Linked DNA regions of Homo sapiens. The protein of the gene in region 1 interacts with the protein of each later gene in a pairwise test. Each region holds a gene or a part of one and is shown in the gene's direction. Other genes may lie near its edges. The genes, in order: MTUS2, ZBTB47, HCK, ZNF764, TSHZ3, SLC25A6 and ITGB4.

Region 1 (3,500 bases):
AGATTTTAAACTCTTTGGGGGCAGAAATAACGCTGATCTTCCTCATCATTCATTTGGACATTTATTCATTCATTTGTGCTGCAAATACATAATACGTGCCTAATATGTATGCCAGGTATTAGACAATATTTATTTTCAGTGTCTAGCAAATCTGAAAGTCTTTTTTTAATTCTTCAAAGTGAAAATACAGGATACTACAAATCCATCATTATAGGATGACCTAGTGAGGAACGCTTCCTGGAGGAAGTGGTAGTTATGTTGCATATTGAAGGATGCAAAGGACTTGTAAGATGAGGTTGGGGGAGGATTCCACATTCCATGCAGATGGAAGAGTATGCGCAAAGGCCCTGAGGCAGAGAGTAATGAACATGGTACTGTGAGGAATGAGGCCAATGTGGCTGCAGCCTGCAGAGCAGAGGGTGAGGTGGGGTTGAGGCCAGAAAGGTGTTCAGGGCCTGATCATGCAGGCCTCGAAGGCCAGAGTAAAGCATTTCCCCCAAGTTTTTATTTTGGAAAATTTCAAACCTATAGAAAAGTTGCAGATGTAATAGAATTATTACCTAGATTTTCAAATGGTTGACTTTTGCCAGTTTCTCTCTTTTACTCTTTCTCCTTCTCATATGCACACACACATACATACACGTTTTTCTTGGTCGAATCATTTGAGAATAAGTTAGAAAAATCATGACATACTACCTCTGAATTCTAAAGCATGTATATTTCAAGAACCAAATTAATCTCTGGCATAATTATAGCACGATTACACACCCAAGAAAATTAATTATAAAATACCTGTACCTTATATACAGTCCATATTTAAATCTCTAATTGTCCTAATAATATCCTTTGCTAACATGTTTTGAAAATCCAGGCTCCGCTGACATTTTTTGGGACCAGTTAGGCCAGTTATTTTGCAATACATACCTCAATTTAAATTTGCCAGATTATTGTCTCATGGTTAAATTCTGGTTGAACATTAACTACTGCATAGGTGATGTGTGGCCCTGAGAACTAACTAATATCAGGAGTCCGTAATGTCAGTTTCATTACTAGTGATGTTAAATTTGATCACGTGGTTAATGTGGTGTCTACCAGATCTCTCCATTGTAAAGATAAAATTTTCGTTTTGTAAGAAATGAAGTAGCCTGGGGGAAGATACTTTAAGCATCTATGAATATCTTGTTCCCCAACAATCTTTTACCCAATGTTTGTACCTTTGGCATCCCTTGTGTAAGATAATTATGAATGTAGCGATTGCAAAATAGTGATTTTTCAAATTCTATAATTTTTTTCTACATTCGTTGATATTCTTCTGTAAAGAAGAGCCCTTACTTCTCCTCCATCCTTTTAAATCAGTATCAGTATAGACTTGTGGATGTTTAAAATTTAGATTTAAGATCTCACATGCATTTATAATCCATTTCTAACATTAAACATTTTGATGTTTAATTTTTGTATTTGGCCAGGAGGAGCCCTGATCAGAAAGGTTTTTTGAGAAAACTATTGATTGAATGAAATAATAATATAGAAATGACAAATAAATCTGTGTTTACCACTTTTTTCTCCTGAGAAGTTCTATTTGTCAATCTAATGTGAATATATTTTTATTTCTCTCTAGGTCTCATGGACTGATTGGCTCTCATTCAGCAGGAACCTAACAGATAAGTCTTCCTGCTGTATATCAAGACAATGCTTGGTTTTCAAGCTGTTCTGAGAATGATTAAAGCAGTGTCGCAAGGTGACATTGTCAGGGGAGAACAAGCAGCTTGAGAATTTCCTCTTAATCTGATTGCAGCTTGAAGGCAGCCCATTTCCATTAAGTAGGACTGCATGGCAAGCAGCCCCACCAAAGGGTTGACAATGAGCGTCCCAGTGGCTCCTAAGAAATCATGTTACACTCAGTTGCGGGACAACAGAAATGCAGCAAGAAATAATAATGAAAGCATCTTAAGTCTGGGAGATACGAATGCCAATCAAATCATGTTGGAGGTCAGCTCCTCTCATGACGAGTCCAAGACATGTGACCTGGGAGATGAAATTGGAAATACAAATTCAAGTGAGCCAGAAAACCGTACCCATTTCCATAAGGAATTTCACCAACTTCAGGGCTTTGGGAAAGGCTCTCAGGCTGGCTCTGCCAGCCTGAAAGATTTTAGACTTTCTTCAACCATTCAGAGGGAACTCAATGAAGAGCACACAGTGGAGAGAGGCACAGATAGCCTGCAGACCACGCGGAGTATTCAGGGACCAAGTCTGTCGAGTTGGAGGAATGTGATGAGTGAGGCCAGTCTAGACGTTTTGGCTAAAAGGGATGCTGAAATTCCCCGGCATGTTCCCAAGGATAAACTGGCAAAGACCCTTGACAATGAGGAACTGAGGAGGCATTCTTTGGAAAGAGCAAGCAGCTCTGTAGCTGCAGTCGGGAGCCTGACTCCGCAGCATCCACAGCCTCTATCCCTCGACTCCCGGGAAGCACGGGGTCAGATACCTGGGGGTGGGGAGGGGCCACAGAAGACATTGCCAGACCACGCTGTCCCGGCAGCTTTCCCTGCAACTGACAGTACCTCAGAGGGAAAGAGTGTGCGTCATCCTAAACCATCTACCTCAGAAAGCAAGCAGAGCACTCCCTCAGAGACCCAAACAGTGGGGGCACATGTACTGCAGGTGTGCAGTGAGCACACATCACATTCCGCCCATCCAGAGCCTGCTCTGAATTTGACTTTGGCATCGAAGGAAATCCCAAGTAAACTGGAAGCACAATTAGGTCAGGGAAAGGGAGAGGCCAAGCTGGATCTGAAATATGTTCCTCCCAGGAGAGTTGAACAGGAGGGAAAGGCAGCCCAGGAAGGGTATCTGGGATGCCACAAGGAAGAGAATCTGTCAGCCTTGGAGGGAAGGGATCCATGTGGGGAAGCACACCCGGAAGCCACCGATGCACTTGGCCATCTGCTGAACAGTGACCTCCACCACCTTGGGGTGGGAAGAGGCAACTGTGAAGAGAAGAGAGGAGTCAACCCAGGGGAGCAGGATTCTCTCCACACCACCCCCAAACAGGGCTCTGCTTCCTTAGGAGGGGCTGATAATCAGCCCACTGGCAAAATTTCACCATGTGCAGGTGAGAAGTTGGGTGAAAGGACATCCAGCAGCTTTTCACCAGGTGACAGTCATGTGGCTTTTATTCCTAATAATCTGACTGACAGCAAGCCCTTGGATGTCATTGAGGAGGAAAGGCGGTTGGGCAGTGGGAATAAGGACAGTGTTATGGTTTTGGTGTTCAATCCTTCTGTTGGAGAGAACAAGACGGAGGTGCCTGAGCCCCTGGACCCTCAAAGTGGCCGCTCAGAAGCACGGGAAAGCAAAGAGGTCACCACATCTGTTGCTGAAAACAGGAACCTTCTAGAGAATGCAGATAAGATTGAAAGCACCTCAGCAAGAGCAGATTCAGTTCTCAATATTCCAGCACCCCTCCACCCAGAGACAACTGTGAACATGACCTACCA
Region 2 (3,500 bases), on another chromosome or scaffold:
GTGGCCCCTGGTGGCTCAGGGAGGCTCCTGCTGAGGCCCACGGTAGGTTTCTCATTCAGGTGACTGAGAAGTGGAGCTCAACCACCACCACCCCTGCCCAATCCCAGCCTACCCACTGCTCTCCTGGCGATGGAAGGCCTGGCATGGGGAAGGGGGGCGGTAGGCTGTGGATGGATGGGGCCAGGATTCATCCCAGGGTCCCCAGGGAGGCACTGACAGCTATGGAGCTGATGGTTTTGTGGCCATCAAAATATTGTGGCAAGGTACCTCCCGAATGCAGGAGGCTCAGACCTGGTTGGGCAGGCCCTGAGGAGAGCCAGAACTTGGAACCAGTGGTGCTGGTCCAGCTGGGCTGGTGGTTGGTGGATATTAACAACATCTGCACATCACTGTGTGATGGTTCTCGTGCAGGGACTGGGCAGGCTGCCTGTCTGTGCTGCCCACCTTTTGGGGAGGCTGCTGTGGTAGAGCCGGGGTGACTGAGTTGGCTTCTATTCCAGGCAATTCACAGGTGCTGGATGTGGCCCACAGGCCTGATAGTCTGACCCATCAGACATTGAGGGCCTCCGCTAGGGCTCTGGAAGCCCCAGATGGTGTGGCCTCTAAGGCAGGGCTTTCCCAGAGCCTGTGGACATGGACCGTACCTGACCTGGGGTCTGGGGGTCTACCGGGAAAAGGATCTGGGGCAGGCCTTGGGGGCCTCCTGCCTGCAAGCATGGTAGGCAGGTTCCACAGCTGTGTCCTTCCACCCCTGCAGAGCCCCTGAGTGAGAGAGAGCTGCTGGGGGCTAGGCCTGAGGCTGCAGGCAGGGGTTGGGGGCAGCCTGGCCCAAGCCCTGGCTGTGATGAGGAGACCTCACCAGGCAGTGCAGCAGGACCAGAGTGGGGAGAAGGTATAGGCCCTGAGCCTGGATTTCTTCACAGGTTTCAACTTCTGCAGCAGCCACATGGCTGTTGCGATGAGGGGTTCCCTCAGGTGCTACCCCTTGGATTCTGTAGCCAGAGACTGGGCAGTGAGCAGTGAGCCCGGCTTCTGTTCTTGAGGTGTTTGGGGCTGGGCAAGCTTGCTTTTATTGGTATGTGTGAGTGAATATGTGGAGAGAATCCACGGGGCTGAGGAAATGCTGAAGGAATGCCTGTGGCCCTCCTGGGGTGACCACCTGGTCCCGGTGTGCCTGCGATGGTCCTGGTTCTAGCACTGAAAGCCCTGCACCCCAGAAAATGCCCAGGTCCCTGGCAAACCTGGATGGTTGGTCACTGTGGTCTCTCTTTCATCCCCTTTCCTTCCCTTTCCCTTCCTGGGATGACTTTTCCCATTTCCCAGGAGATGACCCAGAGGCCCAGAAAGTGACAGGACCTGATCTTCAGCCTCAGAGGGTCACGAGTGGAGCCTGAGCTCTGAGGCAGCTCACTCAGGCTTGAATCCCTTCCTTGCTAGTTTCGGCTCTGTTGCTGTAAAGTGGAGCCACGAGTGATGGGCTGCCTCCTGGATGGCTGGCAATGCTGGGAGTGGTGCTGGGGGAAGGGCGGGCAGGGGCCCACTGGCCTTGACCCACTCCTGTGCCCTCTGTCCCCGCAGTTGCTGGTTGAGAAGACAACTGACTCCCCGGCGGCTGAGTTCTCGCTGGTGGAGGACGTGGCGCTGCACTTTGCCTGCTTGATGGGCCGCCTGAACGAGCAGCGCCTCTTCCAGCCTGACCTCTGCGACGTGGACTTGGTGCTGGTGCCCCAGCGCAGCGTCTTTCCGGCACACAAGGGTGTGCTAGCCGCCTACAGCCAGTTCTTCCACTCACTCTTCACCCAGAACAAGCAGCTGCAGCGTGTGGAGCTGTCCCTGGAGGCACTGGCACCTGGTGGCCTGCAGCAGATCCTCAACTTCATCTATACGTCCAAGCTGCTGGTCAACGCGGCCAACGTCCACGAGGTGCTCAGCGCCGCCTCATTGCTGCAGATGGCTGACATCGCTGCGTCCTGCCAAGAGCTGCTGGACGCCCGCTCTCTAGGCCCACCAGGTCCGGGCACTGTGGCCCTGGCCCAGCCGGCTGCCAGCTGCACTCCAGCTGCGCCGCCCTACTACTGTGACATCAAGCAGGAGGCCGACACCCCAGGCCTGCCCAAGATCTATGCCCGCGAGGGCCCTGACCCTTACTCGGTGCGTGTTGAGGACGGGGCAGGGACTGCTGGTGGCACAGTGCCTGCCACCATTGGGCCAGCCCAGCCCTTCTTTAAGGAGGAGAAGGAGGGTGGTGTCGAGGAGGCCGGTGGGCCCCCAGCCAGCTTGTGCAAGCTGGAGGGTGGAGAAGAGTTGGAGGAAGAGCTTGGGGGTTCTGGCACCTACAGCCGCAGGGAGCAATCCCAGATCATCGTGGAGGTGAACCTCAACAACCAGACACTGCACGTGTCCACGGGGCCAGAGGGGAAGCCAGGTGCCGGGCCAAGCCCAGCCACCGTGGTTCTGGGCCGGGAGGACGGGCTGCAGAGACACTCGGACGAGGAGGAGGAGGACGACGAGGAGGAGGAGGAGGAAGAAGAGGAAGAGGAAGGTGGTGGCAGTGGACGGGAGGAGGAGGAGGAGGAAGAGGGTGGCAGTCAGGGAGAAGAGGAAGAAGAGGAGGAGGACGGGCACAGTGAGCAGGAAGAGGAAGAGGAGGAGGAAGAGGAGGAAGGGCCTAGTGAGCAGGATCAAGAGAGCTCTGAGGAGGAGGAGGGGGAGGAGGGGGAGGCTGGGGGCAAGCAGGGGCCACGGGGAAGCCGAAGCAGCCGGGCAGACCCCCCTCCCCACAGTCACATGGCCACACGGTCCCGGGAGAACGCCCGGCGCCGGGGTACCCCTGAACCTGAAGAAGCTGGGCGGCGGGGTGGGAAGAGGCCAAAGCCACCCCCTGGAGTGGCCTCTGCATCGGCCCGAGGGCCGCCAGCCACTGATGGGCTGGGGGCCAAGGTGAAGCTGGAGGAGAAGCAGCACCATCCATGCCAGAAGTGCCCACGAGTTTTCAACAACCGCTGGTACCTGGAGAAACACATGAATGTGACCCACAGCCGCATGCAGATCTGCGACCAGTGCGGCAAGCGCTTCCTGCTGGAGAGCGAGCTGCTGCTGCACAGGCAGACAGACTGCGAGCGCAACATCCAGGTGGGCCTCACGTGGCTGGGGGCAGGGCAGAGGCTGTCCAGGTGGGGCTAGGCCATAACTGGGCTCTGGGCACCTAGTGTCTTGCTGACTGCATTACCTAGGTGGTCTGCGGAGACCAGACTTAGCCCCCAGACAGGCTGGCCCAGGCCCAGTTCTCAGGGTGGTTAGAGCTCAGGGGTAACATCAAGCCGAGCTTCCTGGGAGAGGTGGATAGAGTTGGGCGCATGAAGAGATGTGCAGAGGATTGGAACAAACAGTACCCTTGGCCAGAGGGACAAAGGGGACACATGGACTTGGGAGGATGAGAGTGGAGAGTTGTCTGAGCAGACAAGGCCAGAAGACAGGCCACTCTGGGTGGGATGAGTCAG
Region 3 (2,558 bases), on another chromosome or scaffold:
CATCAGTCTTACTGCTTTCTCCCTCCTCGTCCTACAGCCTATTCTCCACTTGCAGCCAGAAGGATAATTCTAAACTTTAAATCAGATCTTGTCCTTTCTCCACCTTTTTTTTTTTTTTTAAGACAAGGTCTCACTCTGTCACTGAGGCTGTAGTGCAGTGGTGTAATCATAGCTCATGGCAGCCTCGACTTCCTAGGCTCAAATGATCCTCCCGCTTCAGCCTCCCGAGTATCTGGGACCATAGGCACATGCCACCATGTCTGGCTATTTTTTATTTTTTTAATTTTTTTGTAGAGACTTGGTCTCACTACGTTGTGCAGCCTGGTCTCTAACTTCCAGGCTCAAACGATCCTCCAGCCTTGGCCTCCCAAAATGCTGGGATTACAGACACACACCACCATGCCCAGCTAATTCTTTAAATTTTTTGAGAGACAAGGTATTGCTATGTTGCCGGGCTGGTGATTTCCATTTTTAAGCGATGCTTTCAGCATGGAGAGTGAATGGGAGGGAAAGGGAACAGGGTGGCAGCCAGTGAGGAGGCCACAGCAGTGGCCCAGGCAGAGGTGATGATGGTCTGGACAGGGTGGTGGCATTCGTGACTGGCATACGTTGATGAACTGGTGCTACGTTTCAAAAGGAGAAAAGATCTGACTTGCTGACTTAGGAGGTGAGAGAGAGAGAATAAAGGATGATTACCCTGGCTTTGCACCACAGGGTGGGTAATGGTCTAGGGATAGAAATTGGAGAGCTCTGTTTTAGCTCTGCTAAATTTGAGTTGACTTAAATATAGAGACATCCAAGTAAAGGAAGCACTTGAGTTCATGAGTTTGGAGTTTGAGACTAATAATATAAAATTGGGGATCACAGACATTGAATGGCTATTCTTATGAATAGCTAATAGAAACTTGAACTGAACAAAAAAATGGTCCCACCCATAGGTTAACATTGAATCTGGCCACCTGAATGTTTTGTCTTGAGGGTGCACTAGTCAAAACCAGGCAACACACAATAGACGCTGAATCCATTAGGATGTGTTCCACAGCAAGCAACAAAATAACAGACAAAGAGTAACTGAAATAGAAGCAATCTATTACTCCCAATCTTCCATTGGTGACTGGTTAGTTCAGCAACTCAGCAGCTGTCAGGACTCTGGGTTCCTGTCTCTATGATGGTCTTCTCCATGTTGTCAGCTCCAAGTATCATAAGTATCTCACAGTGTTCAAAGGAAGAGATGAAGGGTGCGTTCTCCAAAGACTCTCCTCTAAGCGGGAGGAAAAACCTTTCCATCACTTTCCCAGCAGACCTCCCCATCAGCTCCCATTGGCCCAAACTGGGTCCCAGGCCCATGTCCTAGCTGCAAGTGAAGCTGAGGGTGGAAGTCTGTCTTTCACAGTGGAAGGGGCTCAGCTTGCAAGGTGAGGTGGGGAGTGATGCCTGCTGGGGAGGCCACAGGGCCTGCCACCCCTGGGCTCTCATTTCCCAACTGCTTCCGTTTCTAATTCCACGGCTCCTTTTCAGGGATGTCAAACCCTGAAGTGATCCGAGCTCTGGAGCGTGGATACCGGATGCCTCGCCCAGAGAACTGCCCAGAGGAGCTCTACAACATCATGATGCGCTGCTGGAAAAACCGTCCGGAGGAGCGGCCGACCTTCGAATACATCCAGAGTGTGCTGGATGACTTCTACACGGCCACAGAGAGCCAGTACCAACAGCAGCCATGATAGGGAGGACCAGGGCAGGGCCAGGGGGTGCCCAGGTGGTGGCTGCAAGGTGGCTCCAGCACCATCCGCCAGGGCCCACACCCCCTTCCTACTCCCAGACACCCACCCTCGCTTCAGCCACAGTTTCCTCATCTGTCCAGTGGGTAGGTTGGACTGGAAAATCTCTTTTTGACTCTTGCAATCCACAATCTGACATTCTCAGGAAGCCCCCAAGTTGATATTTCTATTTCCTGGAATGGTTGGATTTTAGTTACAGCTGTGATTTGGAAGGGAAACTTTCAAAATAGTGAAATGAATATTTAAATAAAAGATATAAATGCCAAAGTCTTTACCAAAACGTTGGTTTTCCTGTCCTTCCAATTCCTGAATATCTATTTGCCTTCTTGCTGTATGACAAGTCAGAAATGGTGAAGGACTCTCCCGGGGACCAGAAATACAAAGACAAGTGGGGTTCAGACTGGGTGCTGTGGCTCCCACCTATAATACCAGTGCTTTGGGAGACCGAGGAGCGGGGGATTGCTTGAGCCCAGGAGGTCGAGGCCACAGTGAGCTATGATCGTGCCACTGCACTCTAGCCTGAGCGACACAGTGAGACCCTGTTTAAAAAAAAAAAAAAAAGATGAAGAAGAAGAAAGAAAGGAAAGGAAAGAAAATTGGGGTTCAATGCTTGAGGTTTTCTAACTGCCCTAAAATAGTTACTGGCTATATTAGTTTCCTCTTGCTCCTGTAACAAATTACCACATATCTGGTAGCTTAAGACAACAAAACTGCATAACATTACTTGGCCGGGCATAATGGCTCATGCCTATAGTTCCAGCATTTTGGGAGACTGAGGTG
Region 4 (4,082 bases), on another chromosome or scaffold:
GACAGGGATTGCTCACTCGGGGAGTCGGTTTTTGAGATGTGAGTCTTGCCGATGCTCCCAGCCGAATAAAACCCTTCCTTCAACTCGGTGTCTGAGGGGTTTTGTCTGTGGCTTGTCCTGCTACAACAGGACATGTATGAAGTCACGTGGAGCACAGAATAGACCATCAGAAAGTGAGAGAGAGGTCTGGGGGAGAGTTGGTGACATTTACTAGATAAAGACCCTAGGGGAAGCAGATTGGGGCAAGAAAGGGATGAGTTGGATTTGAGTAGAGGAGCCTTGGGCCATCTGTCCAGGGGCAGGATGTGAGGGGAGGTGAGAGCCCGGCTGCAGCTACAGGGAGACTGGCAATTGGGAGGCGTCCTGAGCAGCACATGGGAGAAGCTCCTAGAAGAGAGGACCCTCTGACTTTCTCAACCTTACCCTACTCTCCCCACTGCCTCCGCCATCTAGAAACTTCCAGAATTTCAGGCCCCAACAAGCCTACGATGGAGGAGGTTCTCCTGTATCCACTCCTTTTTCTTTCTTTCTTTCTTTTTTATTTTTGAGACAGAGTTTCGCTCTGTCGCCCAGGCTGGAGTGCGGTGAGGCAATCTCGGCTCACTGCAAACTCCGCCTCGCGCGTTCAAGCGATACTCCTGCCTCAGCCTCCCCAGTAGCTGGGATTACAGGTGCACGCCACCACACCTGGCTGTTTTTTTGTGTGTTTTTAGTGGAGACGGGGTTTCACCATGTTGGTGAGGCTGGTCTCGAACTTCTGACCTCAGTTGTTCCGCTGGCCTCGGCCTCCCAAACTGCTGATTACAAGCGTGAGCCACTGCGCCACGCCCACTCCATTGGTTTTTTTACACTCAACATTGGGAAGAGACTGCTGTTGCCCTGTTTCTGAGATAACAAGGACAAAACGAGAGAGTGATGAGCTGGAGCCCGATTATAAAACGGTCCACAAACGAAAACTAATGCCTGAGTTCAGTAAGGCCGGGAGGCCAGCTCACTCCCGCGAGGCGCTCTTTTGTTCGTGCAAACCGGGGCGGAGCTCTCTGCTGCACCGCCTCGCCGGGCCGGGGCGGAGCTCTCTGCTGCACCGCCTCGCCGGGCCGGGGACTAAACATGCGCGGCTAGTTTTCAAGGCCGGCCTCTGTATTAGTCACCGCGGCCATTTTGGATGAGGGTACGGAGAGAACGCGGACTGGAGATACCGGGGGCGTTGTCTTGGGCACGACTGCGTAGGGGCAAAGGTCGAGTACCCGCGCCGCCGCCATTTTTTATGAGGGCATATTCCATTTCTGATTATACACCCGCTGCCATCGGCACCGTTAGTTTCCACGCCCTCTAGTGCGCCCTCGGGGGCCCTAGTAACCTCCCTCCTTCCCTTGGGCCCGGGCCGGGGAGGCTTTCTCGGGCGCAGGAGGTTCCGCAGGCCCAGGCCAGGCCAGGGGAGGCAGCCGATCCGTCGTCGGGGTTGACAGTTACCATGGCGCCGCCTCTGGCCCCGCTCCCTCCCCGGGACCCAAACGGGGCCGGACCCGAGTGGAGGGAGCCGGGGGCTGTGAGCTTCGCGGACGTGGCCGTGTACTTCTGCCGGGAGGAGTGGGGCTGCTTGCGGCCAGCGCAGAGGGCCCTGTACCGGGACGTGATGCGGGAGACCTACGGCCACCTGAGCGCTCTCGGTGAGAGCCCCACCTGCTCGCCTGAGCCCTGCGCCCCCACAGGCCCTGCCGCGCCTCTGGGAGCTGCGCGTGAAGTTGGGGGCCCCGGGGCCGGGCAGGTGGCCTCCCCGCAGCGTGGGGTTTGCGTTCTTCTTCCCTAGGAATCGGAGGCAACAAGCCAGCTCTCATCTCCTGGGTGGAGGAGGAGGCCGAACTGTGGGGTCCGGCTGCCCAGGATCCGGAGGTGGCGAAATGTCAGACACAAACGGACCCAGGTGGAGTATCGGGTGCTCAGTCCCATGGGGACTTCTCTGTTCCTGTCCCATCCCGGTACCCTCTGCCACCTCCAGCTACCTGCTTAGCAGTTTCCTCTCTGAACTGCCTTCTCAACTGCGACGACGAGGCTGAGCCCCTGCGTGGCTCCCAGATGCAGCCTAGAAAGGAGCTGTGATGGGGGCTCTGGCCCTGCCATACCCGCCTCTGAGTCCTCACCTCTGCGTGGTCACTACACTCTGGGGGCTTTTTTTGGTGTTTTTGTTTTAGAGACAGGGTCTCGCTTTGTTGTCTAGGCTGAGTGCAGTGGCGGCATCATAGCTCACTGTAGCCTGGAACTCCCGGGCTTAAGCAGTCCTTCCACCTGGGCCTCCAGAGTAGCTAAGACTGTACAGGTGCTCGCCACGAAGCCTGGGTAATTTTTTTTTTTAGACAGAGTTTTACTCCGTTGCCCAGGCTGGAGTGCAGTGGTGCCATCTCAGTTCACTGCAACCTCCCACTCCCAGGTTCAAGTAATTCTCCTGTATCAACCTCCCAAGTAGCTGGGATTACAGGCGCCCGCCACCAAGCCTGCTTAATTTTTTTTTTTTTTTTTGAGACAGAGTCTTCCTCTGTCGCGCAGGCTGGAGTGCAGTGGCGCCATCTCGGCTCAGTGCAAGCTCCGCCTCCCTGGTTGACGCCATTCTCCCGCCTCAGCCTCCCCAGTAGCTGGGACTACAGGCGCCCGCCACCACGCCCGGCTAATTTTGTTTTTGTGTTTTTAGTAGAGATGGGGTTTCACCATGTTAGCCAGGCTGGTCTCGAACTTCTGACTTTGTGATCTGCCCGCCTCGGCCTCCCAAAGTGCTGGGATTACAGGCGTGAGCCACCGCGCCCAGCCAATTTTTTGTATTTTTAGTAGAGACAGGGTTTCACTATGTCGCCCAGGCTGGTCTTTAACTCCTGGAGCTAAGCGATTCGCCTGCTTCGGCCTTCCAAAGTGACCCACTGCGTCTGGCCTAATTGTTTTAAATTGTTATGTAATATATATATTTTATAGAGGGGGTCTTGGCTCTCGGTGTGTTGCCCAGGCTGGTCCTGAAATCCTAGGCTGATCCTCCTTCTCTACCTCCCAAAGCGCTGGGATTACCGCCTTGAGCCCCCACGCCCAGTCTCTTAAACTCTGTTGACTCTACCTCCACCTCAGGACCCACCCCTGCCGTTCACCTGCAGGCTGGTTCCTTTCTCCCCGTCCGCCCCCCTTTTTTTCTTTCATTTCTTGCCCTCAGCCTTTGCAGAGTATCCAGCCCCACTGAACTTGGCCATGCCCTCCTGGTTCTGCCTTTCTTGGTGCTGTTCCTGCTGCCTGGAACATCCTCAGGTGTCCGTTCCTCCTTCTGGATCAGGCCCAGATGTTCATGTCATCTCTGCCCTTCCCCCACCGTGACATTTCCCCAGCCCCGAGGCGGAATGGGCTGTTCTCTCCCTCCCGGCTCTGTCTGGCTCTGCAGCCGAGGAACAGGTGTCACTCCTCCATCTCCCAGGAGCAGCCGGGGATCCAGCAGGCCTGTCCCTGTCCACGCGGGCTGTGGGATTCAAGGACCAGGATGAGCCGAGCCTGAACTCTCCCCTCTTTATCTCTCAGCAGATTCCAGAAACAAGAAAAAGGAAAGACAAAGGGAAGGGACGGGAGCCCTGGAGAAGCCCGACCCTGTGGCCGCCGGGTCTCCTGGGCTGAAGTCTCCCCAAGCCCCCTCGGCCGGGCCCCCTTATGGTTGGGAGCAGCTGTCCAAGGCACCGCACCGGGGACGCCCCTCCCTCTGTGCCCACCCCCCTGTCCCCCGAGCTGACCAGCGTCATGGCTGCTACGTGTGCGGGAAGAGCTTTGCCTGGCGCTCCACACTGGTGGAGCACGTCTACAGTCACACTGGCGAGAAGCCCTTCCACTGCACTGACTGCGGCAAGGGCTTCGGCCACGCTTCCTCCCTGAGCAAACACCGGGCCATCCATCGTGGGGAGCGGCCCCACCGCTGTCTGGAGTGTGGCCGGGCCTTCACGCAGCGCTCGGCGCTGACTTCGCACCTGCGCGTCCACACCGGCGAGAAACCCTATGGCTGCGCCGACTGTGGCCGCCGCTTCAGCCAGAGCTCTGCCCTCTACCAGCACCGGCGCGTGCACAGC
Region 5 (3,500 bases), on another chromosome or scaffold:
ATTTTAACTGTTTAATTTTACAAATACATGTACCCATCTGGGTTGCTGTGTTTTCCTGAGAGCCCAGAACATATTCTAGGTAAGATCAACAAGTACTAATGCTTTTTTTTTTCTTTCTCTCCTTCTCCCTGTCTCTCTTCATTCCATCCTACCTGTCTCTCTTTCCCACCTGTTATCATGGCAGCCTATGTTTCCGAAGAGTTAAAGGCTGCTGCCCTGGTGGACGAAGGTTTAGACCCAGAGGAGCATACGGCAGATGGAGAGCCCTCGGCCAAGTACATGTGCCCGGAGAAGGAGCTCGCCAGGGCCTGCCCCAGCTACCAGAACTCCCCGGCCGCCGAGTTTTCCTGCCATGAAATGGACAGCGAGTCACACATCAGTGAGACCAGTGACCGAATGGCTGACTTTGAAAGCGGCTCCATCAAGAACGAAGAGGAGACCAAGGAGGTCACGGTCCCACTGGAAGACACGACTGTGTCGGATAGCCTGGAGCAGATGAAGGCCGTGTACAACAACTTCCTCTCCAACTCCTACTGGTCCAACCTCAACCTCAACCTGCACCAGCCCTCCTCGGAGAAGAACAACGGCAGCAGCAGCAGCAGCAGTAGCAGCAGCAGCAGCTGTGGCAGCGGGAGCTTCGACTGGCACCAGAGCGCCATGGCTAAGACGCTGCAGCAGGTGTCACAGAGCCGCATGCTCCCGGAGCCCAGCCTCTTCAGCACCGTGCAGCTGTACCGGCAGAGCAGCAAGCTCTATGGCTCCATCTTCACGGGGGCCAGCAAGTTCCGCTGTAAGGACTGCAGCGCTGCCTACGACACCCTGGTGGAGTTGACGGTGCACATGAACGAGACGGGGCATTACCGCGACGACAACCATGAGACCGATAACAACAACCCCAAGCGCTGGTCCAAGCCTCGCAAACGCTCCTTGCTGGAAATGGAAGGGAAGGAAGACGCCCAGAAGGTGCTGAAGTGCATGTACTGTGGCCACTCCTTTGAGTCCCTGCAGGATTTGAGTGTCCATATGATCAAAACAAAACACTACCAAAAAGTGCCTCTGAAGGAACCCGTCACTCCTGTCGCCGCCAAAATCATCCCTGCCACTCGGAAGAAAGCTTCCCTGGAGCTGGAGCTCCCCAGCTCCCCAGATTCCACAGGTGGAACCCCCAAAGCCACCATCTCAGACACCAACGATGCACTTCAGAAGAACTCCAACCCTTACATCACGCCAAATAATCGGTACGGCCACCAGAATGGGGCCAGCTATGCATGGCACTTTGAGGCCCGGAAGTCGCAGATCCTGAAGTGCATGGAGTGTGGGAGCTCGCATGACACCCTGCAGGAGCTCACTGCCCACATGATGGTCACTGGCCACTTCATCAAGGTCACCAACTCTGCTATGAAAAAGGGGAAGCCCATTGTGGAGACGCCTGTCACACCTACCATCACAACCCTGCTGGATGAGAAGGTCCAGTCCGTGCCCCTGGCAGCCACCACCTTCACGTCCCCCTCCAATACACCTGCCAGCATCTCCCCAAAACTGAATGTGGAGGTCAAGAAGGAAGTCGACAAGGAGAAAGCGGTCACTGACGAGAAACCTAAGCAAAAAGACAAGCCTGGCGAAGAAGAGGAGAAGTGTGACATCTCTTCCAAATACCATTACTTGACTGAAAATGACTTAGAAGAGAGTCCCAAGGGGGGGCTTGATATCCTCAAATCCTTGGAAAACACAGTGACATCCGCAATCAACAAGGCCCAGAACGGCACTCCTAGCTGGGGGGGCTATCCCAGCATCCATGCCGCCTACCAACTTCCCAACATGATGAAGTTGTCCCTGGGCTCGTCGGGGAAGAGCACGCCCCTGAAACCCATGTTTGGCAACAGTGAGATTGTCTCCCCGACGAAAAACCAGACCCTGGTCTCTCCACCCAGCAGCCAGACGTCCCCCATGCCCAAGACAAACTTTCATGCCATGGAGGAGCTGGTGAAAAAGGTCACTGAGAAAGTTGCCAAAGTGGAGGAGAAGATGAAGGAGCCGGATGGGAAGCTTTCCCCGCCCAAGCGGGCCACTCCCTCCCCATGTAGCAGCGAAGTCGGGGAACCCATCAAGATGGAGGCATCCAGCGATGGGGGCTTCCGCAGCCAGGAGAACAGCCCCAGCCCCCCGCGGGATGGGTGCAAGGATGGGAGCCCCCTCGCTGAGCCGGTGGAGAATGGCAAGGAGCTGGTGAAGCCCCTAGCCAGCAGTTTGAGTGGCAGCACGGCCATCATCACCGACCACCCGCCTGAACAGCCTTTTGTTAACCCTTTGAGCGCCCTGCAGTCAGTCATGAACATTCACCTGGGCAAGGCCGCCAAGCCCTCCCTGCCTGCCCTGGACCCCATGAGCATGCTTTTCAAGATGAGCAACAGCCTGGCGGAGAAGGCTGCTGTGGCCACCCCGCCGCCCCTGCAGTCCAAGAAGGCAGACCACCTCGACCGCTATTTCTACCACGTCAACAACGACCAGCCCATAGACTTGACAAAAGGGAAGAGTGACAAAGGCTGCTCCTTGGGTTCAGTGCTTCTGTCACCCACGTCCACAGCCCCGGCAACCTCCTCATCCACGGTGACAACGGCAAAGACATCTGCCGTCGTATCATTCATGTCAAACTCGCCGCTACGCGAGAATGCCTTGTCAGATATATCCGATATGCTGAAGAACTTGACAGAGAGCCACACGTCAAAATCCTCCACTCCTTCCAGCATCTCCGAGAAGTCTGACATTGACGGGGCCACTCTGGAGGAGGCTGAGGAGTCGACGCCCGCCCAGAAGAGGAAGGGCCGCCAGTCAAACTGGAACCCCCAGCACCTCCTGATCCTCCAGGCCCAGTTTGCCGCCAGCCTCCGGCAGACCTCAGAAGGGAAGTACATCATGTCAGACCTGAGCCCCCAGGAGCGGATGCATATCTCCAGGTTCACCGGGCTGTCCATGACCACCATCAGCCACTGGCTGGCCAACGTGAAATACCAGCTTCGAAGGACAGGTGGAACAAAGTTCCTCAAAAACTTGGACACTGGCCACCCCGTCTTCTTTTGTAACGATTGTGCGTCCCAAATCAGGACTCCTTCCACGTACATCAGTCACCTAGAGTCACACTTAGGCTTCCGGCTACGGGACTTATCCAAACTGTCCACCGAACAGATTAACAGTCAGATAGCACAAACCAAGTCACCGTCAGAAAAAATGGTGACGTCCTCCCCCGAGGAAGACCTGGGGACTTCCTATCAGTGCAAACTTTGCAATCGGACCTTTGCCAGCAAGCACGCTGTTAAACTTCACCTTAGCAAAACACACGGGAAATCTCCGGAAGACCACCTTCTGTATGTCTCTGAGTTAGAGAAGCAGTAGCATTTGCTTTTGATAGAAAGGACTGCAGTTTGCTTTGAGGGAAACTGTGGAAGGCACCTTCAGGCCCCCTCTGACTTGTTGTTCTTGGCACATGTTCTTATTTTAACTGC
Region 6 (3,462 bases), on another chromosome or scaffold:
TGGACTTGGAGACGCCGTCTTCTCCCTGTGCCCTCACAGCATCATCCCTCTGTGTGTGTCTGTGTCCTCATCCTCTCTTCTTATGGGATGTCTTAATCCATTTCAGGCTGCTATCACAGAATACCATAGACTGGGTGACTATAAACAACAGACATTGATTTTCCTACAGTCCTGGAGGCTGGAGGTCTGAGATCCAGGTGTGGGCAGGGCTGGTTCCTCCTGCGGCCTCTCTCCTAGGCTTGTAGATGCCGTCTTCTCCCTGTGCCCTCACGGGGTCGTCCCTCTGTGTGTGTCTGTGTCCTCATCTCCTCTTGTTATGAGATGTCTTAATCCATTTCAGGCTGCTATCACAGAATACCATAGACTGGGTGGATTGTAAACAGCAGACATTGATTCTCCCACAGTCCTGCAGGCTGAAGGTCTGAGACCAAGGCATGGGCAGGGCTGGTTCCTCCTGAGGCCTCTCTCCTGGGCTTGGAGATGCTGTCTTCTCAGGCTTTTTCCTGTGTGTGTGTCTGTGTCCTCATCTCTTGTTATGAGATGTCTTAGTCCATTTCAGGCTGCCATCCCAGAACACCATAGACTGGGTGACTTAGAAACAACAGACATTGATTCTCCCACAGTCCTGGAGGCTGGAAGTCTGAGATCCAGGTGTGGGCAGGGCTGGTTCCTCCTGAGGCCTCTCTCCTGGGCTTGGAGACTCCGTCTTCCCTGTGTCCTCACAGGGTCGTCCCTCTGTGTGTGTCTGTGTCCTCGTGTCCTCTTCTGATGAGATGTCTTAGTCCATTTGAGGCTGCTATCACAGAATACCATAGAGTGGGTGGACTGTAAACAACAGACATTGATTCTTCCATAATCCTGGAGTCTGGAAGTCTGAGATCAAGGTGTGGGGCAGGGCTGGTTCCTCCTGAGGCCTCTCTCCTGGGCTTGTAGACGCCGTCTTCTCCCTGTGTCCTCACAGGGTCATCCCTCTGTGTGTGTCTGTGTCCTTATCTGCTCTTCTTATGAGGTGTCTTAGTCCATTTCAGGCTCCTAAAACAATACTATAGACTGGGTGGCTTATAAACAGCAGACATTGATTCTCCCGGAGTCCTGGAGGCTGGAAGTCTGACATCAAGGAGTGGGCAGGGCTGGTTCCTTCTGAGGCCTCTCTTTTTGGCTTGTAGACACCGTCTTCTCCCTGTGTCCTCACAGGGTCATCCCTCCGTGTGTCTGTGTCCTCATCTCTTTTTAGAAGGACACTGGGGTCGTAGGATCAGGGCCCACCCTACTGGCCTCCTTTAGTCTTACCTCTTTCAAGACCTTATATCCAAGTACAGTTGCATCCTGAGGTCCTGGGGTGGGGGTGGGACTTCAGCATGTGGATTTTGAGGACAGAGTGTAACTCCCATAGTAACGGTGACCCTTCAGAAGGTCAGGGCCCTATTCCCTTCCCCAAACAGGCCTAACCCCGGCCTCTGGGACTGTCTTGCTGGGCTCCGGTAGGTGGCAGGCGGCCTTTTCCCCTCTGGCCCTGCCCCGACCTCTCGTGTTGTAAACGTCAGCTGGCACTGAGCAGCCACGTGGAGGGGGCACTGGTGGTCTCGGAAGAGCTCGGCACCACCTCAGGGGGCCGTGAGCACACCCTGGGGGCCGACCCTGGTCTCGGGTGGCCGTGCAGGCGCTGGAGACGGTGACGTGCCGTTCCCGCGCAGGCATGCTCCCCGACCCCAAGAACACGCACATCGTGGTGAGCTGGATGATCGCGCAGACCGTGACGGCCGTGGCCGGCGTGGTGTCCTACCCCTTCGACACGGTGCGGCGGCGCATGATGATGCAGTCCGGGCGCAAAGGAGGTACTCGGGGGGGCGGGGGACCCTTGCTGCCGGGAAGGGGAACCAAGCTCCTTGCCCTAGGCCCGTGGGAGGTCAGGAACCATCAAAGGAGGCACTTCCAGGGCGTGTGAGACAAGCAAGTGTGTCCGAAAGTAACCTGGCTGTGTGGAAGGATTTTCCTGAACGATGGGCTTCTGATCTTTTTGGGGTTTCATGGTCCGGGCGGCAGTTTCTAAATCCCCGCCTCCTAGAACCTCTGGTTGCACCCACACCCTCGATCCTGCCTTCTCTGCATGGACCCCGGGGTGGAGATGGGGGACACCCAGGGCGGGGCCTGAAGTCCTGTGTCCAGCCCTCCCTGAGACAGTGGCTTAGGAGGAGGGCTTGAGCTGGGGGAGCCTCAGGTATCCCTCCTGTAATCAGAACTGTGGCTCAGGCGTCTGGGGTGTTATTTCTGTGAAACGTCTTTGTGGGTGCAGGTGGCGTCCGTGTCTTGAAGAGCTTGGCGGCGAGGCCCTCACTGTCTCCCTGTCGTTGCAGCTGACATCATGTACACGGGCACCGTCGACTGTTGGAGGAAGATCTTCAGAGATGAGGGGGGCAAGGCCTTCTTCAAGGGTGCGTGGTCCAACGTCCTGCGGGGCATGGGGGGCGCCTTCGTGCTGGTCCTGTACGACGAGCTCAAGAAGGTGATCTAAGGGCCGCGGCCTCCTCCACACACACACACACACCAGGGGAACCAAGAGAACCACGTAGAATCCTCAACCGTGCGGACCATCAACCTTCGAGAAATTCCAGTTGTCTTTTTCCCAGCCGCATCCTGCCTGTAGATGGCCGGGGAAGGCTCTAGAAAAGGGGCGCATTGCGATCCAACCATCGGCAGCCGATTCCGTGTCTTGATCACGGGGTGGGAGGGAACCGTGGCGTCCCTGCGTGGGGCCCATGGGTGAGACACTCCAGTACTGAGACCTAGAGTCCAGATGCTTGTAGGAGCCAAGTCGTGTTCTAAGTATTTATTTAAAACAAAAGAATCACGTTTTCCCATTTGTACTTCAGCGCTAGCCCCTGTTTTGCACAGCCGAGTACTGGCGAGTATGTTCTATGTTGGGCCTCCTGCTGCAAAACAATAAACAGAGGACGCAGAGGTCCTCCTGCCTGGCCACGCACCTCTCCACAGGGCGGCCTGGGGTCTGGAGATGGGCGCTGGGCCCACGGGACGCAGATGGGGCCACGCTCTGCCCGTGGCTGGCCCACGTTCCTGGTCTGCAGTGCTGCCTCCTCCCCAGCACCCCTGGGGCACAGAGGGCAGGGTCACAGCTGGGAAGAGGCGGGGGGTAGAAACCAAGGCTGGCAGAAGTGTAGCCGGGCTCCCTGATAAATGCTGGAGGACCCCAGGGCACCTGCACTTACTGTACCCTCTCTGAGAGCATTTGTATGATCTCATGTCTCAGCTCTGGAGGCTGGAGGTCCCAGAAAACCAAGGTATGGTAGATTCAGTCTCTGGTGAGTACCCAGTTCCTGGCTTCTAGATGGCGCCTTCTCCCTGTGTGTCCTCAGATGATGGATGAGGCCAGGGTGCTCTCTGGAGTCCTTTCTGTAAGGGCACTGATCCCATCCATGAGGCCTCATGACTCCCAAAGACCCCCAC
Region 7 (3,500 bases), on another chromosome or scaffold:
CCTGGAGTCAGGCAGGCCTGGGTGCAGATCCCTGGGCCTAGCCGCTCGGATGAGCCTAGGTTGCTCCTCTGCTTGTTGGTTTCCTCGGCATGCAAGCGTCGAGCCCGGAGGCTTGCTGGGGCAGTAAATGGGTTAGTGTCACGAAGCCCAGAGGCCCTGGCCACTGTCATTGTCGCTATGATTGTGACTGCGCTGGGAAGGAGGGAGTTTCCAGCCCTGAGGGAGGTGAGCAGGAGCTCATTTCAGGGATCCAGACATCTCCTAGGAACTTGGGGGCCGAGGGCCTTCAGGCATCGATGGCCCCCTGGTCCTTGGGGCTGGGCCTGCCTTGGCTGACCACGGGGCCCCTGCAGGGTATATACCAGGTGCAGCTGCGGGCCCTTGAGCACGTGGATGGGACGCACGTGTGCCAGCTGCCGGAGGACCAGAAGGGCAACATCCATCTGAAACCTTCCTTCTCCGACGGCCTCAAGATGGACGCGGGCATCATCTGTGATGTGTGCACCTGCGAGCTGGTACAACGCAGCCCCGCAGGGCGGGAGGGGAGAGCTGAGCCAAGCACCCAGGGACCCTGAGGAATGAAGCAGGACTCCTGTGCCCCATATCCCTTGTGGGGTTTCCCGAGGCACACAGGAGAGCGGAAGTGTCCAGTGGCCCCGGTCCTGCTCCCCCGACGCACCCCACCATGGTCTCTCTCATTCCAGCAAAAAGAGGTGCGGTCAGCTCGCTGCAGCTTCAACGGAGACTTCGTGTGCGGACAGTGTGTGTGCAGCGAGGGCTGGTGAGTGGGGAAGGGAGTTGGGCACCCAGGACACCAGTGGCCCCTGATGGGAAAGCTGGGCTCCTGCAGGGGCCTGGCCCTGGGTGCACCTTGTACACCTGGCTGGGGGTGGGGCGGCAATCAAAGAAACGGCTAAGGGCGGGGCACACCCAGTTGTTGGTCAAACCCAGGTCAAAGCACTTTGAAATACAGAGATATATGGGCTGTCTCTAGAAAGAGGTGTGAGGATTGAGACGGGGTTGGCTGTTGGGGCTGGGGTCTGGATCTTGGGGGACAGGCACACGAGGCTTCCTTTTTGCTCCATGCCTTTGGTATTCTGAGTCCTGTGTCATATTGCCTGATCAGAAGAGAGCTCGTAAATGCACGGCAGTAAGGGCTTTAGCTTCAGGACACTGGGCGAGCTTGCCACAACTTGAGGCAGAGCAGTGGGGAAAGGACACTGGAAGGGGTGACATGACAGGGCACTGGGGTTTAGGTCTCAGCTCAGCCACTTCTGTCTGCATGACTGGGAGCTGCCTCGGCCCTCTCAGAGCCTCAGTTTCCTCATCTGTAAAATGGGACAGCAGGCCAGGCGAGGTGGCTCACACCTGTAATCCCAGCACTTTGGGAGGCCGAGGTGGGTGGATCACCTGAGGTCAGGAGTTCAAGACCAGCCTGGCCAACATGGTGAAATCCCATCTCTACTAAAAATACAAAAAAGTAGCTGGGCGTGGTGGTGCATGCCTGTAATCCCAGCTACTCGGGAGGCTGAGGCAGAATTGCTTGCACCTAGAAGGCGGAGGTTGCCGTGAGCTGAGATCGCGCCACTGCACTCCAGCCTGGGCAAGAAGAGCGAAACTCTGTCTTGAAAAAAAATAAAATAAAATAGGCCAGGCGCGGTGGCTTACGCCTGTAATTTCAGCACTTTGGGAGGCCGAGGTGGGCGGATCACAAGGTCAGGAGATCGAGACCATCCTGGCTAACATGGTGAAACCCCGTCTACTAAAAATACAAAAAATTAGCCGGGCGTAGTGGCGGGTGCCTGTAGTCCCAGCTACTCAGGAGGCTGAGGCAGGAGAATGGCGTGAACCCAAGAGGCAGAGCTTGCAGTGAGCCAAGATCGCGCCACTGCACTCCAGCCTGGGCGACAAGGCGAGACTCCGTCTCAAAAAAAAAAATAAAATAATTAAATTAAATTAAATTAAATGGGACAGCAAAAGCCCCAGCTTTCCTCCTGGGCTGTTTCGGGGAATGACCAGTTCCTCCTTCAGGAGTGGCCAGACCTGCAACTGCTCCACCGGCTCTCTGAGTGACATTCAGCCCTGCCTGCGGGAGGGCGAGGACAAGCCGTGCTCCGGCCGTGGGGAGTGCCAGTGCGGGCACTGTGTGTGCTACGGCGAAGGCCGCTACGAGGGTCAGTTCTGCGAGTATGACAACTTCCAGTGTCCCCGCACTTCCGGGTTCCTCTGCAATGGTGAGCACAACAACTGCGGCCAATGCTGATGGCGGGGTAGGGAGTGGACAGCAAGCATGACTTTCCCGTCAGGACCCAGGTTGGGAGAGCCAGACTTGGAATCAGAATCCCCAAGTTCAGGCCCAGCCCACTCTGGATGCCCTGAGGGCCGCCCCTGAGTCCTGCCCCAACCTGGGCCTGACTTCCCTCATCTGTAACGTCCATGCCCAAGGTCACTGTTGGCAGGACTTTCCCCTGGTTTTAAGATTCCAACTCCCCTGAGGTTCTCTCTGGAAGTTCAGTTCTATGCCCACCCCACTTCTCCACACCCCTATCTCATTAGAGTGGGTGCCACCCAGCTCAGCCCTCCAATGGCTGGCAGGTATATGGCATTATGATCTTTCCTCTCTCCAAAGATGCTAAATTTCTGTGGGTTTTTTGTTGTTGTTGCTGCTGTTTTTTTTTTTTTTTTTTTTTTTTTTGAGACAGAGTTTCACTCTTGTCGCCCAGGCTGGAGTGCAATAGCACAATCTTGGCTCACTGCAACCTCTGCCTCCTGGGTTCAGGCGATTCTCCTGCCTCAGCCTCCCTAGTAGGTGGGACTATAGGCATGCACCACCATGCCCAGCTAATTTTGTATTTTTAGTAGAGACAGGGTTTCACCATGTTGGCCAGGCTGGTCTCGAACTCCTGACCTCAGGTGATCTGCCCGCCTCAGCCTCCCAAAGTACACATCTGTAATCACACCTGGGATTACAGGTGTGAGCCACTGAGCCCGGCCCAAAGATGCTAAATTTCTACCTGGAAGGCCTGGAGCTTCCTCTGTATTCCCATGGGTCCAGGCCATAGGCATACAGTCTGGCCAGGAACATCAGAGCTGGGCAGGATCACAGAACTCAGACAAGGGGACATAGGGAAGGATTGGTAGTTGAATGGAGGAGGATGAATGAAAATCTACTCATCAAATACTTATGAAGCCCTCACTGTATACTTTCCAAGCCCCTGCTTTTCTACTCTTTCTTCTGTTCTTGCTTTTGTTCACCATTTCTTCTCTTCGACTGTCTGTCCCTGAGTGTGCTCAGAGAAACAGAAGAGAGAACTGGGCACCACTGGAGAAAGGCAGACAAGTGGCACAGAGGGAGGTATGAGAGAGGAAGGGAGGAAGGTGCCTCTGGGGAAGGAGGCAGGGCCAGAGTACAAAGGGCTTCGGTTCTAGTCCAGAGCAGGACTTCATCCTTTGGACAAAAGGGGGTCACTGGAGGTTTTACTTTCATTTTCTAACTATTT

The links.
Region 2: the proteins of MTUS2 (region 1) and ZBTB47 interact in binary tests that used the Homo sapiens proteins (3 or more experiments, as listed by UniProt).
Region 3: the proteins of MTUS2 (region 1) and HCK interact in binary tests that used the Homo sapiens proteins (3 or more experiments, as listed by UniProt).
Region 4: the proteins of MTUS2 (region 1) and ZNF764 interact in binary tests that used the Homo sapiens proteins (3 or more experiments, as listed by UniProt).
Region 5: the proteins of MTUS2 (region 1) and TSHZ3 interact in binary tests that used the Homo sapiens proteins (3 or more experiments, as listed by UniProt).
Region 6: the proteins of MTUS2 (region 1) and SLC25A6 interact in binary tests that used the Homo sapiens proteins (3 or more experiments, as listed by UniProt).
Region 7: the proteins of MTUS2 (region 1) and ITGB4 interact in binary tests that used the Homo sapiens proteins (3 or more experiments, as listed by UniProt).

The regions. Positions count from the first base shown.
Region 1 is NC_000013.11:29,022,839-29,026,338, forward strand, and holds part of MTUS2 (microtubule-associated tumor suppressor candidate 2), read left to right. Parts: intron 1-1,618; 5' UTR 1,619-1,830; coding exon of another isoform or gene 1,831-1,860; coding exon 1,861-3,500. UniProt on the Homo sapiens protein: Binds microtubules. Together with MAPRE1 may target the microtubule depolymerase KIF2C to the plus-end of microtubules. May regulate the dynamics of microtubules at their growing distal tip.
Region 2 is NC_000003.12:42,656,697-42,660,196, forward strand, and holds part of ZBTB47 (zinc finger and BTB domain-containing protein 47), read left to right. Parts: intron 1-1,578; coding exon of another isoform or gene 1,579-1,659; coding exon 1,660-3,132; intron 3,133-3,500. UniProt on the Homo sapiens protein: May be involved in transcriptional regulation.
Region 3 is NC_000020.11:32,099,799-32,102,356, forward strand, and holds the end of HCK (tyrosine-protein kinase HCK), read left to right. Parts: intron 1-1,518; coding exon 1,519-1,721; 3' UTR 1,722-2,058; downstream 2,059-2,558. UniProt on the Homo sapiens protein: Non-receptor tyrosine-protein kinase found in hematopoietic cells that transmits signals from cell surface receptors and plays an important role in the regulation of innate immune responses, including neutrophil, monocyte, macrophage and mast cell functions, phagocytosis, cell survival and proliferation, cell adhesion and migration.
Region 4 is NC_000016.10:30,555,575-30,559,656, reverse strand, and holds the start of ZNF764 (zinc finger protein 764), read left to right. Parts: upstream 1-1,282; 5' UTR 1,283-1,474; coding exon 1,475-1,670; intron 1,671-1,810; coding exon 1,811-1,924; intron 1,925-3,546; coding exon of another isoform or gene 3,547-3,549; coding exon 3,550-4,082. UniProt on the Homo sapiens protein: Zinc finger protein that functions as a cofactor for steroid hormone receptors, such as NR3C1/GR.
Region 5 is NC_000019.10:31,276,437-31,279,936, reverse strand, and holds part of TSHZ3 (teashirt homolog 3), read left to right. Parts: intron 1-184; coding exon 185-3,390; 3' UTR 3,391-3,500. UniProt on the Homo sapiens protein: Transcriptional regulator involved in developmental processes. Functions in association with APBB1, SET and HDAC factors as a transcriptional repressor, that inhibits the expression of CASP4.
Region 6 is NC_000023.11:1,385,652-1,389,113, reverse strand, and holds the end of SLC25A6 (ADP/ATP translocase 3), read left to right. Parts: intron 1-1,694; coding exon 1,695-1,835; intron 1,836-2,354; coding exon 2,355-2,512; 3' UTR 2,513-2,962; downstream 2,963-3,462. UniProt on the Homo sapiens protein: ADP:ATP antiporter that mediates import of ADP into the mitochondrial matrix for ATP synthesis, and export of ATP out to fuel the cell.
Region 7 is NC_000017.11:75,731,459-75,734,958, forward strand, and holds part of ITGB4 (integrin beta-4 isoform 1 precursor), read left to right. Parts: intron 1-353; coding exon 354-515; intron 516-704; coding exon 705-781; intron 782-2,031; coding exon 2,032-2,234; intron 2,235-3,500. UniProt on the Homo sapiens protein: Integrin alpha-6/beta-4 is a receptor for laminin. Plays a critical structural role in the hemidesmosome of epithelial cells. Is required for the regulation of keratinocyte polarity and motility.